2 linked regions of the Homo sapiens genome follow. Each later gene encodes a partner of the first gene's protein in a complex. Each region holds a gene or a part of one and is shown on either strand. Other genes may lie near its edges.

Region 1 (7,895 bases):
TGAAGTGGTGTGATCTCGGCTCACTGCAACCTCCCGGTCCTGGGATCAAGCGATTCTCCTGCCTCAGCCTCCCAAGTAGCTGGGATTACAGACACGTGTCACTACCGCCTGGCTAATTTTTGTATTTTTAGTAGAGACGAGGTTTCGCCACGTTGGTCAGGCTGGCCTTGAACTCCTGACCTCAAGTGATCTACCCACCTCAGCCTCCCAAAGTGCTGGGATTACCGGCGTGAGCCACTGTGCCCAGCTCCTTCATCTTTAAAGAAAAAAAAGATCCTCACTTCCCTCTTCATCCTTTCATCCTGTTCCAGCTTTGGCCTCATTCTTCTAATTTTTCCCTCTATAAACCTCCTCCTGCAGCTTTCTACATATCAGGTGACCAAAAATTCCATCCATCCTTCCTCTCACTCAGCATAAAAACCTTGGAGTCAGCCAGGGGCGGTGGCTCACGCCTGTAATCCCAACACTTTGAGAGGCTGAGGCCAGCGGATCACCTGAGGTCAGGAGTTCAAGACCAGCCTGGCCAACATGGCGAAACCCCATCACTAGTAAAAATACAAAAATTAGCTGGGCATGGTGGCACGTGCCTGTAATCACAGCTACTCGGGAGGCTGAGGCAGGAGAATCGCTTGAACCCAGGAGACTGAGGTTGCAGTGAGCTGAGATCATGCAACTGCACTCCAGCCTGGGCAACACAGCAAGACTTCATCTCAAGAAAAAAAAAAAAGAAAACCTTGGAGTCATCCTCAATTCCTCTCTTTATTTCGTGCCCCATACAATATGCCAGCACAATCCTATCATCTTTTTTCAAAATGACACCCAGAACTGACCACTTCTCACCACCACCAATACCACTGCAAAGGGCTGAGCCACCAGCATCTCTCATCTGGACTATTAGAGTAATTTCCTCACTGGTCCCTCTTGTGGCTCCCACCTGGCTCAAGGTCCTCTGACTCCTGCCCAGCTCTCCTGATTTGGTCTCTTCCCCACCCTTCTCTGCTGTCTACTCTCACTCTCTCCATTTCAGTCATGGTGACTTTCATGATACCCCTCACACATACCAAGCCTTGTCCGGCCTCAGGGCCTTTGCTGTTACTATGCTTTCAGCTTGGGACACTTTCTTCTCATATCCTCATGGCTCCCTCTGCTGTCATCTCCTGATCTCTGCTTAAATGTCAACCCAGTGGCACTCCCTCTCCATCCCTCTGCATCTTCTTACCCTGTTTTCTTGTTCTTTACATCACCACCTGACATATCATGTTTTCTGGGTTTTATTTATAGTATGTCTCCACAACTAGATCAGAAGCTCTGCAGGGGTAGGGGTTTTTGTCTGTTTGGTTCACAGCTTCATCCCCAGTACCTAGAACAGTACTTGCCATAGACAAGGTGCTTTATATTTGTTGAAGGACTGAACATGGAGGAGTACAGTGAGGGATGGAAAGAGGAAATCAAAACTCACCCTTGAGCTGATTGGAAAAGACGCGTAGCAGGTCTCCCAGTGGGGGGCAGCAAGTGCACTTCAAATAGAAGACCCAGTGTAAGCAAAGCCTGACCCTCCTTCCTCTACCTGAACCTGTAGGTGCCAGAGGAGGCTAATTATGAGGCGGTCCCCGTGGAGGCCTATGGGCTGGCCATGCTGCGGGGCATGGGCTGGAAACCTGGCGAGGGCATCGGCCGCACCTTCAATCAGTGAGTTCTGGGATAGGGTCGAGGGGACAGACAGATCATCAGGCTGCAATCAAGATCCCCAGGGTCACTGCCAAACCAGAACCACCTAGGCAGGGAGGGAGGATACATTATCGCCCTAACTAATTCAGCAGCCCCTTCCACTACTGTTTTAAACTCCCATTTGCCCTTTGAAACTCTAATAGAATCCCATTTATATAAAGTTTGCCTCTAGGGACATCAATTTCCTCATCTGAAAAATGGGGGTAATAGTACTGACTTCATAGGTCTGTTGTGAGAGTTAAATGAAATTATACACATAGGCCAGGTAGTGGCTCATGCCTGTAATCCCAGCACTTTCGGAGACTGAGGCAGGAGGATCACTTAACTCCAGGAGTTTGAGACTGGCCTGGGCAACATAGGGAGGCCCCATCTCTACAAAAGATTAATTAATTTTAAGAAAAGAAATTAGGGCCGGGTGTGGTGGCTCACACATATAATCCCAGCACTTTGGGAGGCTGAGGTGGGTGGATCACGAGGTCAGGAGATCGAGACCATCCTGGCTAACACGGTGAAAGCCCATCTCTACTAAAAAAAAAAATACAAAAAATTAGCCGGGCATGGTGGCGGGTGCCTGTAGTCCCAGCTACTCAGGAGGCTGAGGCAGGAGAATGGCGTGAACCTGGGAGGCGGAGCTTGCAGTGAGCCGAAATTGCACCACTGCATTCCAGCCTGGGTGACAGTGAGACTCCGTCTCAAAAAAAAAAAAAAAAAGGAAAAGGAAAAGAAATTATATACATAAAGCACATACAGTAGGCCCTGACCCCAAGAAAGCGTAGACTAAACATTTGCTATTGTCATGCAGACTTGCAACCCTTTCTTCACAATTGCAAACTCAATAATTCTGAAAACCAAACATTTTTTCATAACCCATTGGCAGCCAAATATGACCTGAATTGGCGTTTTTTTTTTTTTTTTTTTTTTTTTTTTGAGATGGAGTCTCTGTCTGTCACCCAGGCTGGGATGCAGTGGCGCAATCTCGGCTCGCTGCGACCTCTACCTCCTGAGTTCAAGTGATTGTCCTGCCTCAGCCTCCTGAGTAGCTGGGATTACAGGCATGCACCAGCATGCCTGGTTAATTTTTGTATTTTTAGTAGAGATGGGGTTTCCCCATGTTGACCAGGCTGGTCTTGAACTCCTGACCTTAGGTGATCTACCAACCTCGGTCTCCCAAAGTGCTGGGATTACAGGCATGAGCCACCATGCCCAACCATGTTGAGTATTTATAATCCGGTTTCTCCTGCTCGGTGTGAATGTTCATATGATTTCCCCTGTAGAAATAGTATATTTGGTTACAGCGATCTGCCTCTGATCTCACTGTAGATATTATGTAATAGATGGTATATGCAGCATGTTATTAGGTTGAACCAAATGAAATTGCTGTTTCTGTAGGTCAAAAACAGTCCTAATATGAGATCAGAAAGGGCAACCTTGAAAATATTGGTGGGGGCTGGACACGGTGGCTCACACCTGTAATCTCAGCACTTTGGGAGGCCAAAGAGGACGGATCACCTGAGGTCAGGAGTTCAAGACCGGCCTGACCAACATGGTGAAACCCTGTCTCTACTAAAAATACAAAAATTAGCCGGGCATGGTGGCATGCGCCTGTAACCCCAGCAACTCGGGAGGCTGAGGCAGGAGAATCCCTTGAACCTGGGAGGTGGAGGTTGCATTGAGTCGAGATCGAGCCATTGTACTCCAGCCTGGATGACAAGAGCAAAACTCCATCTCCAAAAAAAAAGAAAAGAAAAGAAAATGTCAATGGGGCGGGTGGGGCGGGTTTGGGCAGGAAGAGGAAGTAAATAAGGTGTTGAAGACTGTTGCATCCTCTCCAACAAACCCATATTCCTCCCTGCAGAGTAGTGAAGCCCCGTGTCAACTCACTGAGGCCCAAGGGGTTAGGGCTGGGTGCCAACCTGACCGAGGCCCAGGCCTTGACCCCCACTGGCCCCTCCCGCATGCCAAGACCAGATGAGGAGCAAGAGAAAGATAAGGAAGATCAGCCTCAAGGGCTGGTGCCTGGAGGAGCTGTGGTGGTTCTTTCTGGCCCTCACCGAGGCCTCTATGGGAAGGTAAGGAACCAAGATATCCCGGGAGCCCAAAACAGGCAGCAGGGAAGGTTGATCCGAGGGTCAGATGGAGGAATAATTGGATTTGAGGTAGAAAGGCTGGGACTCCTAGTCTTTTAGGTCTGCTTGGCCCACTGCCTCACTCAGTAACCCAGGACCACTTGCTGGCCTTTGTGAGCCTCAGTTCCCAGCTAAAAGGAAGAGAATGCCATATGCCACAAGTCCCTGAAGATTAAATGCTTAAAGGATCCAAGGAAGCCCCACAGTCAGCTGAGGGAGACACAGGAACCAGACCTGGTCCCACTTCTCAGGGGTCAGAGTCTGGTTGGGGAGACAGAGGAAGCAGGCCTCTTAGAGGTAAGGGGTTGACATCTTGGTCCTAGGAATGTGGGTGGAGTCCACAACCCCTACCTGACTTCTTCCCCTCAACACTTTAGGTGGAAGGCCTTGATCCTGACAATGTTCGGGCCATGGTTCGTCTGGCTGTGGGGAGCCGGGTGGTGACTGTTAGTGAGTACTACCTGCGGCCTGTCTCCCAGCAGGAGTTTGACAAGAACACCTTGGATCTCAGTGAGTGAGCCTCTTGTAGAGCTAGGGGAGTTGGCAACGCATTCCTAGGGGTGGCAGGGCCTGGCTAATGGGGTGGTTTTAGATCTGCAGCAGGGAGGGGCAGCAGTGTGCCTGGCAGATATGACTTCCAATCAGAGGTCAGGAGGTGAGAATGGACATAAGTGACTTACTCCATTTGATTGGAGAAAGGTCGATGTCATACCCCTGGGTCTGTAGCCTGTCTGAGTGAGAAGAAACAGGTGCAGAAACCAATTCCTACCTTCGAGATCTTTGTCCATTTGGGGTGATGAACCTCTCTTTTACTAGGGAGTGAGAACTGCTAGGATTAGGGTGTGACCAAGAAGGAAGGAATTCTAGGCAGACAGAACAGCACAGGCGAAGGCGTTTCGGTAGGACGGGGCAGTTTGGCAAATGGGTACAGACAGAGCTCTCTGGGAATCTCTAGTCCACACTAGGTGAGCATTGTTGTTGTGGGCTAGGTTGGCTGCGGGAGGGTTCCTGAAGGAAGCTGAAATGGTTGAGAGGTGGGGGAGAGGCATTCTACTAGCAAATGCATGAGGGGTGAGAGGGGCACTTTGGCAGGTGGGAGGTGGCTCTAGGCTGAGACATGGCCTTGGAAGGAAAGGGCAGTGAGACACTGAGGCTCTGTCCTGGTTCTCCTCATAACCTCTTGAACAGGCCAGATGAGCAAAACTTCCTTCCCCAGGGCAACAGAACGGAACTGCCTCATCACGGAAGACCCTCTGGAATCAAGAACTCTACATCCAGCAGGACAACTCAGAGAGGAAGCGGAAACACCTTCCAGACCGGTGGGACTCTGAGCATGCGGGAGGGGTCAAGAAGGCAGGGCTGTGGGTAGGCTCGAGCAGCCAGGGAAGGCTTCCAAGGCAAGGCGGGCTCATAGAAGGAACGGGGAACTGCATTGTGGGTGGGTTTCATAGCATAGGCAAAGGGAGGGCAACTGGAAAGTGCATCTGATGAAGAGCTAAGCCTGGTGCTGGCACCTTCTCCACAGACAGGATGGGCCTGCAGCCAAGAGTGAGAAAGCAGCCCCCAGAAGTCAGCACTGGTTGCACAGGGACCTGCGTGTGCGGTTTGTGGACAACATGTACAAAGGAGGCCAATATTACAACACCAAGGTGGGAACCCTGCAGCCTGAGTCCCCCTCCCTCTCCTAGGGACTGGGCCCCCCTACCTCTCTAAAATCTCACATCCCCCTGACCTGTATCCCCAGATGATAATTGAAGATGTCCTAAGCCCAGATACCTGTGTATGTCGGACAGATGAAGGCCGAGTCCTGGAAGGTGAGTTTGAGCGATGGCAGCTGGAGGTTGATCAAGAAGAGTGTTTTAGGCCCAGAGCCTGGCCCAGGCAAAGCTGGGAGGTTTGGCAGAGTTCAGGTATTTTGCAAGGCCTAGCATCCTCTTACAGAACATTAGACACTTCCATGATGGTGGTTGGTTATCTTGAGCCCCACTCTCCCAGTCTGTCAAGTTTTCTTTTTTTTCTTTTTTTTTTTTTTTGAGACAGAGTCTCACTCTGTCACCCAGGCTGGAGTGCAGTGGCGTGATCTCAGCTCACTGCAACCTCCACTTCCCAGGTTCAAGCGATTTTCCTGCCTCAGCCTCCCGAGTAGCTGGGATTACAGGCAAGCGTCACCACACCTGGCTAATTTTTGTGTTTTTAGTAGAGACAGGGTTTCACCATGTTGACCATGCTGGTCTTGGAACTCCTGACCTTAAGTGATCCTCCCACCTCGGCCTCCCAAAGTGCTGGGATTACAAGCGTGAGCCACCGCGCTCGGCCTCCGGTCTGTCAAATTAGCATGGAATTTACTATTTCTTCCTCTTGTGATTGGTGCCTTAGTGAAGGAATGTGTATTGAGCTCTCAGTGCAGGGCAGGGGTTAAAACATGCCCACAATAAAAGGTGCCTGTTGTTATCACCACCACCCTTTATTACAGTGATTTTTGTAAACTACTCCTTAGGCTACCTCATCTGTGAAATGGATGTGGCGGGACTCCCATCTGTCAACAGGGTGTAGAGTGGCTCCAGGGAATACAGGAAAGGCCCTTCTTTTTTTTTTTTTTTTTTTTTTTTTTTTTTTTGAAACAGAGTCACTCTGTCACCCAGGCTGGAGTGCAGTGACGCAATCTTGGCTCACTGCAACCTCCGCCTCCCGGGTTCAAGCTATTCTTCTGCCTCAGCCTCCTGAGTAGCTGGAACTACAGGTGCCCGCTACCACACCCAGCTAATTTTGGTATTTTTAATAGAGACAGGTTTTCACCATATTGGCCAAGCTGGTCTTGAACCCCTTACCTCGTGATCCTCCTGCCTCAGCCTCCCAAAGTGCTGGGATTACAGGCATGAGCCACCACACCCAGCTGAAAGGCCCTTCTTTTTTTTTTTTTTCTTTTTTTTTTTTTGAGATTGGGTCTCATTTTATCACCTATGCTGGAGTGCAGTGGCACCATCATGGATCACTGCCACCTCAAATTCCTGGTTTCAAGCCATCCTCTCACCTCAGCCTCCTGAGTAGCTGGGACTGCAGGCACTGACCACCATGCCTGGCTAATTTTAAAATTTTTTGTAGGCTGGGCGCGGTGGCTCATGCCTGTAATCCCAGCACTTTGGGAGACCGAGGAGGGTGGATCACCTGAGGTCAGGAGTTTGAGACCAGCCTGACCAACATGTCAAAACCCCATCTCTACTAAAAATACAAAATTAGCCAAACGCAGTAGTGGGTGCCTGTAATCCCAGCTACTCAGGAGGCTGAGGCAGGAGAATCGTTTGAACCCAGGAGGCGGAGGTTGCAGTGAGCCAAGACCACACCATTGCACTCCAGCCTGGGCAACAAGAGCCAAACTCAGTCTCAAAAAACAAAACAAAAAAATCTGTAGAGATGAGGTCTGACCATCTTGCCCAGGTTGGTCTCGAACTCCTGGGCTCAAGCGATCCTCCCAACTTAGCCTCCCAAAGTGCTGGGACTACAGGTGTGAGCCACCACGCCTGGCCAGGAAAGGCCCTTCTGACAGGACGCTGGTTGGGCTGGTCCTTGCTGTGGGCCTCACTCCCCTCTCCCTTATCCATAGGCCTGAGGGAAGACATGCTGGAGACCCTGGTTCCCAAGGCAGAGGGTGACCGTGTGATGGTGGTGCTGGGCCCACAGACTGGAAGGGTGAGTCTCAGACCTGGCAGTAGAGGTTTGTGGGTCGTTCAGGGCCTGTCCCAGGGTCTAGGCTTGCCTTGCTGATTCCACTTCACCTCTGTTCCAGGTGGGACATTTGCTGAGCCGGGACAGAGCACGGAGCCGGGCTTTGGTGCAACTGCCAAGAGAAAATCAGGTGGTGGAGCTTCACTACGATGCCATCTGCCAGTACATGGGCCCTAGTGACACAGATGATGACTGACCCATGGGACTCCTCCCATCCCCCAGGCTGGTACCAGTTCTGTACCATATGAGAAAGTTGCCTTCAGAAGGTGGGAAGATCATTGTTCCATCCTCTACTTCTGGTGCAGTCCTGGGACAAGG
Region 2 (7,895 bases), on another chromosome or scaffold:
TGAATTAACACCTTTTTTCATTTTGTCTCTATTCACCTTATGTTGCTTGAGTTTTTTCATCTATGACATTGCTATAATCAATACATATTTCATTTGAATTATTTCAGGAATTAATATATTAATTAAGAAACTAATTTGTTAAGTAGAAATCATCTGTGATGATAGTATTTCTTGACTGGGCATTTATCCATTAGTTTAACAGAATTTTCAGAGAGGTTTACATGGCGCCTGAATAGCTAATTGGAATAATATACTAGCAGTTATGGAATGATTCCATTTATTTGTATAGATCCATATAGATAGGTCTATATGAATAACATTTATTTTGAGGTGAGAAAATTCATCCACAGAGGTGTTTTTTGATGTTTCTTTATCAACGTTAACTTTATGTTAACGTTGAAGTTGTACCTACTTATGCCTCTGTAAAGACTAATAATGATCTGCCTTTTCCATGCTAAATATATTCCTTAGCAATTGAATTCATATCCTTGGGACATATGTAACTGAATTGTTAGATGTTGTGTTGGTGAGTCTATATTTAAAAGAATTCTGCATAGAATCCTTTAAGAATGCAGTGTATTAAATCTCTCCCTCATATGTCTGTTTCCTATACTAGATTTTCTTGATGTGGTTCATACTTATCATGAATTTAGAATTTTATAATTAATGTAATTAGCATAAATGACTGTGGAAGCTGTCAGCCAGACCCAAGCCTGTAAAAAATGATGAGTTTAACATAGATTGAGGTTTTTATTTTATTTACAAAATTTTTGAACTGTTTTAAACCCTTATTTAAAAATGCAGGCAGTCACTATCATACTGGTAAATTATACAATATTTAGTCTCTTTGTGTTTTGAATCATTAATGTATTTTTTTTCCCAAATAGAAAGAACTCTGCAACATGATACTTGATTGCTGTGCCCAACAGAGGACATACGAAAAATTTTTTGGCTTATTAGCTGGGGTGAGTTCCAGCCTCTACTGAGGGAATTCTTAAAACGAATATTGTAAATTAATGATTTCTGCTTTATGGTCTGGTCTCATTTAAAAACATATTACCACTTTTGCTAAAAGCAAATTATTCTCTCCTTCCTCAGGTTTCCCACTCTCTTCACCTTCCTCTTTTTCTACTTCATTTTTGCAGTGCTTTAACTTTGCATATCACTTTTCCAGAGCTTTTTGGAATTTTCCATGATTTGTAATGATTTCCCAATAGACGACAAGTAAATGCTGTCTTTTCAAAATCTCAAAGCAGTGTCTAAAGTCAAGTACATGTTCAGGCAGCACAATTAAAGCATGATCTAAAATATTTCTTTAAGCTCTACCCTCATGTGATCACCTACATGTATGATTTTGTTTTAACATGTAAATCTCAGGTAATTAGAAACCATATATATTAACTTCTTTTTTGAGCATCATATGGCACAAAAGGATTTAGTGATATATGCTCTTTGAAAATATAAAGCATATTAATAAAGTTTTGATTCAGTAAATTTAGGATTTAATATGCTCATAATTGTATTAACATTCAATTTTTAATGGTACTGATTTTTTATTTATTAGCGATTTTGCATGCTAAAGAAAGAGTACATGGAATCCTTTGAAGGTATATTCAAAGAACAGTATGATACCATCCATCGCTTGGAAACAAACAAGTTGCGAAATGTTGCTAAGATGTTTGCTCACCTTTTATACACTGATTCACTTCCATGGAGTGTAAGTACATGGGTCAATATTTATACTTCCTTCCTAATTCCCTGTTCTCAAATAGATTTTCGTATAAGCTAGCCATATTTATCCTATTATGAAATGTGCTTTAAAATGAAATGTGTAGAACTGCTGTCTTTGAGATTATCATCATGTTATAAGGAATCAGAAAGCTAGGTAAATAATATACAAGAAATACTATCTTTGTATTATATTAACAGTCCAAACATGCCAGTGTTTCGATAGTGATGGCTAGGAGTGTCTTCAGGAAAAGTACTGCAGATTTTCATCTTCTCTGTGTACACACACGTGCATGCACACTCACATCCACATATGCCACTATTTTGGTGGTAAATGTGTCTCTGAATTACTCTCCCTTGATTCCTGAGGGAATAACTCTCCATGGTTCTCTTGTTGGGTTTGAGAAAAAATGATTGTTCTAGAAGGATGTGTTCTTTTTAGCAGACATTGAAGTTGGGTAAGCTATAGAGAGGATATCCTATAGTCATAGAACAAAGAAAGATATATTCTTGATAGGGAAATGTGCACTGGATTGAAATTTGAAAGGCGTTCATTAAGCTGGCATTGATTTTACAGCTGTTTTTCAACCAGTGTTAGTTAGCCACCACTTATATACTGAGTCATTGAGAGAGGTGCTGTGTATTCAGAGTGAATTATACATGGCCCCTCCTTTCAAGAGGGTTACAGTATAAGACCAGAGGTAAGATATGCCCATAGCAATGATACAAAATAAAAAGTCTTAGATTCTAAGAAAAGCAAAATTACTAAAGGAATTTGAAAGAAAGAAAGAGAGAAGGATGAGAAATTACATCCAGGAGGAAAGAACAGGATTATCTTGTAGAATGCCATCCTACTAATGGTAGAATGAGGCAATATCTCAAACTTAAAAACATTGGTTAGATTTTTATAGTACTTTAAGTACCAAGTATGTCCAGCTACATTAATAGGCATTCGTAATCTAACCTAGGAGACTAATTGTAATAATTTTTGACTTCTTTTTTCCCCTCTTTGAGAAAATGAAGTGAGAATTTTAAACAATTAACCAACTAATGGGCCCCCCAAACACATAACCCATAAAAACTAGAGGTTACTTTTATTTTTATTTTCCCTAAAAATATTTCTTTAGGCATTTCAGTTTTTAAGCCACAGTCTTAATATTCAGAATAAACCATTATACTTTCTGTCTTTTTTTAAATCGTATGTTATGTGTGCTAAACAAAATTGTAGCCTAATGTGCTAAGTGGCATTTTGCCCCAAACCTTCATATACACCACATTTTGATGAGTAAGGTTTAGGAGCTAGTAATCTTTACCATTATATGCTCAAGAGAGGATATCTTCCCTGCTATAAAAAGCACATTACTCAAAACAGAGAATGAAATCTATTTCTGTCGCATCTTAACATTTTGAAAGTTAGTATAGAGAAGTAGTTTTAAACTTTATGTCAGCATAAGGGGAGATATTCAGAGATAACTCTGGTTGAAGATGGGAATAAATAGTAATTTTGAGAAACACTTAAACCTACAAATATTGGTCACTATGTCCTGTCTTTTATAAATTAAAATATACTTGTCTTTTTTTATTTTAATTTTCAGGTTCTTGAATGTATAAAACTGAGTGAAGAAACCACTACATCATCCAGTAGAATTTTTGTCAAAATATTTTTCCAGGAACTGTGTGAATACATGGGTCTTCCTAAACTTAATGCAAGATTAAAGGATGAGTAAGTTTGCCATTAAGCACTTTTTATTCTTATTGACCTCTGGTTTTCTCCCATTGTAGCAGACATAAGCCCATCCGAGACTGTAAAAACAAGAGCTAAGCCCCCTGAGACTTTCTTCATCCATTAATCACTGTGAATTTCATGTTATGTCACACAGGACAACATGCAACTTTTAGTGGTGGTTTTTAGTTTAAGTGGAGTTCAAATTAATGCCTTTTTAGATTTTCTTAGAAAATACAGAATTGTTTTTGTATGCTCACTTGAATTCTCCAGTGATATTTATAATTTTATTTTCTTTTTACCCTAATTTTAAGCCTTAGAATGATAACTAATATTATCAGTGGACAGTTTTGAGTATATATTTCATCTATTAATAATTGTTCAAAATATTACATAGAACTAGAGCCTTATTTCAGGATTATTATGTAATCCCCTCTCACCTTTCTTATTTCCTGTTTGTTCAGATTGCCACTTAGGTTGACTTCTACTCCATTGACACTACTGAAATCATCCTTTCAGATTTCTCAGTGACCACCTGCCATATTCAGTTGTCTTTCTCAGGCTGCATGCCTCTTCACTTCTCTGCCTCACTTATGCAGTTGACTACCTACTCACTGTGGCTCCATACTTTCTTCTCACTTCCTCTCTCAGTCTTCTCCTCAGCCTGCCTCTTCAGTGTTCCTGGGTTCCACACACTGTCTCTGGACTATTCCATCCACTTCTCTTGGCTTCATATACTTACTTATTTGGTCCCTGTCTACTTGACCAGGCTCGTCTTCTCTCTCTTCAGCAAGCTGCACTCCAGCCATACCAACACTGCCAAGCTTGTTAAACATATCTGGCTCTTTCATGCTTCCTTACCTCAGTTTCCACTGCTGGCATTCTCCTGTCTTATTGATCTATCTGGGAAACTCTTAATCATTCTTCTTATATTGTACCTTTTTCTGTGAGAAAGTTTTTTCTGACTCCACTGAGTAGTTACTCAGTGTGGTGCTGAAAACCAAATGTCCAAAACCACCTTGTATTGTTAGTGTCTTTCTGGTTGTCTCACTCCATATATATTGTAATTATATGGTCTTCATCCTTGATTTCTCCCTTTTGTTGATGACTTCCACCTCTCCCCCAGTACTTGGCACAGTTCTATGTATGTGTGTGTACGTGTACATACACAACAGAGAAGGTTTTTAAAATTTTTTGTACATATATTCACTATATATACGTGTGTGTATATATATACACTATATATATTCACACGTGTATATATGTGTATATATTTATCTTTCTATATGTGTGTGTGTAAAAAAAGTTTTTTAAAAACCTCCTACATTGTATAATGATAGAAATCAAGTTTGGTACATTATTACTTGACCCTACTCATTTCATTTAGATAGCACGTAGCCTAACCTAATAAATGACATCAACTAGTTACTTGGTTGTATTTCATTTAGTAATTTAATATATGAAAAATCTGAAAAATGACTAAGGATTTTACCTTTTTATCTTTAAGCAATGTGTTCTCTTTTGTTTATTTTTTTCCTTTTTAGAACTCTGCAGCCATTCTTTGAAGGATTATTACCCCGAGATAATCCAAGAAACACTCGGTTTGCCATCAACTTCTTTACTTCTATAGGTCTTGGAGGTTTAACGTAAGGATTATTCTCAGAATTTATGTTCAGATTATAAAATTATCTCATAATTGTCTTTGAAATAGAATCTAACAGATTATATTTTAAATTAGGGATGAACTGCGGGAGCATCTCAAAAATACACCAAAGGTCATTGTGGCGCAGAAACCAGATGTTGAGCAAAATAAATCCTCCCCATCCTCTTCCTCTTCAGCGTCCTCCTCTTCAGAGTCTGACTCATCCGACTCTGATTCTGACAGCAGTGATAGCAGTTCAGAGTCTTCCAGTGAAGAGAGCGACTCTTCATCCATCAGTAGTCATAGCTCTGCCTCAGGTATTGAAGCTTATGTGTAATTTGGCTTGCTCTTTTCTAATAAATATGTTGCTGATATATATGAAGGAAGAAAATAATTTGATTGTTTATTTGTCTTAGAGATCAGTTGTTTAAAAGCCACAATTAATACAAATGGTCCCATCTATCATTCTTGCAGTCTGTAATACAACATTTATAATGCTGGGATTACCTTTTGACATCCTCATCATAGAAATGAAAATATTTCATTCGCAGATACTTATCTGAGTGATGACTGATATGAACCATCCATTCATAATGTTTGTAATCTAGTTTATAGGAGCTATCCTGATGTTTTTATTTTAAATAAATTTTAGTTTTTTACTTTTAATATTAAAGCTGTTTGTAATTGAGATATATCATACATTCATTGTGGATCTCAGATGCTATATGAATTTTTATAAAGGGAACACATCCTCATAGCTAGCACACAAATCAAGATATACCGGTACCCCAGAAGTTCTCTGTGTTTCCTCTCCCAGTTACTACTCCTTCCATCCTCATGGCAGCTACTATTCTGATTTGTAATTTCATAAATTAATTGTGCCTGTTTTTACCTTTAGCATTATGTATTATGGACTCCTTTTTATGTCTGGCTTATTTTTTTACCATTATGTTTGTGAGATTTAGATGCATTACTGCATTTAGTTATAGTTAATTCAGTAATATTGCTATGTAGTTTCCTACTATATGAATATACCACAATATATATTTATCATTTTTGCTCAACAGACTTTAGATTTTCAAGTGATATTTCCATGTATATTCTTGTACATATCTTTTGATGACCTTATTTATTTATTCACATTTCTACTGGGTATGTACCTATAGGTGGAGTCAGTGTGTCATAAGATGTGCATATATTTAGCTTTGGTGAATACTGTCAGTTTTCCAAGTGGTTATTCCTATTTACACTCCCACCGGCCATGTATAAGAGTTTCATTAGCTCCCATTCTCATTAATACTTCAAATTGACCGTCTTTTTCATTTCAGCCATTCTGGTGGATGTGTAATGGTACTGCATGGCGGTTTTAGTTTTAATTTGCATTTCAACTAGAGAAGTTAAATGCCATTTTATCCATTATTGGCCATTTGGATTTTTGTTGTCAAGTGGCTGTTCAAGTATTTTACCAATTTTTTTTAGTTAAGTTGTTTTCTCTGTTGATTTGTAGGTTTTCTTTACATATTCTAGATATGATATCTTTTGTACATATATGTATTGCAAATAACCAGTCCCATTCTTGTCTCTCTAGCCCTGCAAGGCTACCAGACCTCTGGTGTCTCTGTCCCTCAGTAGCATCCCTGAATCAGCAGATGCTCCCAGGGAGAAAGTAGCTGTAGAACATCACTTACTTCTCAATGTTTCTGCTTTCTCCTGCATCTTGGCCCCTCTAGTACTTGTTTTTCCACTAGCTCTCTGATGCCTTTATATTTTTTACTTTGTAACTGTAACCTTTTATTCTGAGCTAATTTTAGATTTAGGAAAGTTGCAAAAACAGTACAGAGAATTTCCATATACTCTTCATTCCAACTTCCCCTAATGGTAGCATCTTACATAACACTGGTTCATTTATCAAACTAGGAAATTAGCATTGGAACAGCATTATTGACTAGACTACAGATGTGATTTGAAAACCAGTTTTACCACTAATGTCGTTTTTCTTATTTCAGGATTCTGCTAGCATTTAATTGTATTCTCAGTTTTCTGCATTCTATGATAGTTCCTCTCGGGCTTTCCTTGTTCTTAATAGCTTTAACACTTTTGAAGTCCTCTGGTCACTTATTTTGTAACCTGTCCCTCAGTATGGAGTTTCGTCTGATGTTTTCTCCTTATTAGAATGAGATTAGACATTTTTGGCAAGAGTACATTAGAAACAATGTGTTGTTCTTAGTGCATCTTATCAAGAGGTTCATAATTTTATTTTGGGTGACAACCTTGATCACTTGAGTAAGGTGGTGTCCACTGGATGTCTTCAGGGAAACTATTTTTCTCTGTGAAAATGTCTTGTAGGGAGGTAACTTGATACTATGCAAATCTCTTTTTCCTCCAGCTTTTACTCACTAATTTTAACATCCATCTTTGGATGGTTAAAAAATCACCTAATGGTGATTTTTTATTTGTCTGTTTTCTTCTACATCTAGTAATTGAATTTCTTCTATAAGAAAGTATTGTCCCTCTTCCCTCATTTATTTATTTAGTCAACTGTAAATATCAATATAGACTCACGGTTATTTATCTTATCCTGTGGGTTAAAGTCCAATACTGTCATTTATTTTGCTCAAATCATCTTAGCTTTGGCAATTAGGAGTTCCTTCAACTTGATTTCTGTGTGCTTTTCAACATTTTTCAATGCAACATTTTAAAATTGTATCTGGCATTTCTAGTTATTTTCAGCAGGAGCACAGGTTTGCCACAGTCTTCTCTATCCTACCTGGAAGTGGAAATGCTATAGTAAAAGATGTTTTC

Evidence for each region. Proteins that work in one complex are often made in the same cells at the same time.
Region 2: GPKOW (region 1) and CWC22 share a complex: the UniProt entries of both Homo sapiens proteins name them as parts of the minor spliceosome.

What each region holds. Positions count from the first base shown.
Region 1 is NC_000023.11:49,113,499-49,121,393, reverse strand, and holds part of GPKOW (G-patch domain and KOW motifs-containing protein), read left to right. Parts: intron 1-1,579; coding exon 1,580-1,689; intron 1,690-3,583; coding exon 3,584-3,797; intron 3,798-4,231; coding exon 4,232-4,364; intron 4,365-5,070; coding exon 5,071-5,173; intron 5,174-5,379; coding exon 5,380-5,503; intron 5,504-5,598; coding exon 5,599-5,668; intron 5,669-7,455; coding exon 7,456-7,541; intron 7,542-7,638; coding exon 7,639-7,773; 3' UTR 7,774-7,895. UniProt on the Homo sapiens protein: RNA-binding protein involved in pre-mRNA splicing. As a component of the minor spliceosome, involved in the splicing of U12-type introns in pre-mRNAs.
Region 2 is NC_000002.12:179,948,027-179,955,921, reverse strand, and holds part of CWC22 (pre-mRNA-splicing factor CWC22 homolog), read left to right. Parts: intron 1-887; coding exon 888-965; intron 966-1,564; coding exon 1,565-1,717; intron 1,718-3,323; coding exon 3,324-3,451; intron 3,452-4,995; coding exon 4,996-5,097; intron 5,098-5,189; coding exon 5,190-5,410; intron 5,411-7,895. UniProt on the Homo sapiens protein: Required for pre-mRNA splicing as component of the spliceosome. As a component of the minor spliceosome, involved in the splicing of U12-type introns in pre-mRNAs. Promotes exon-junction complex (EJC) assembly.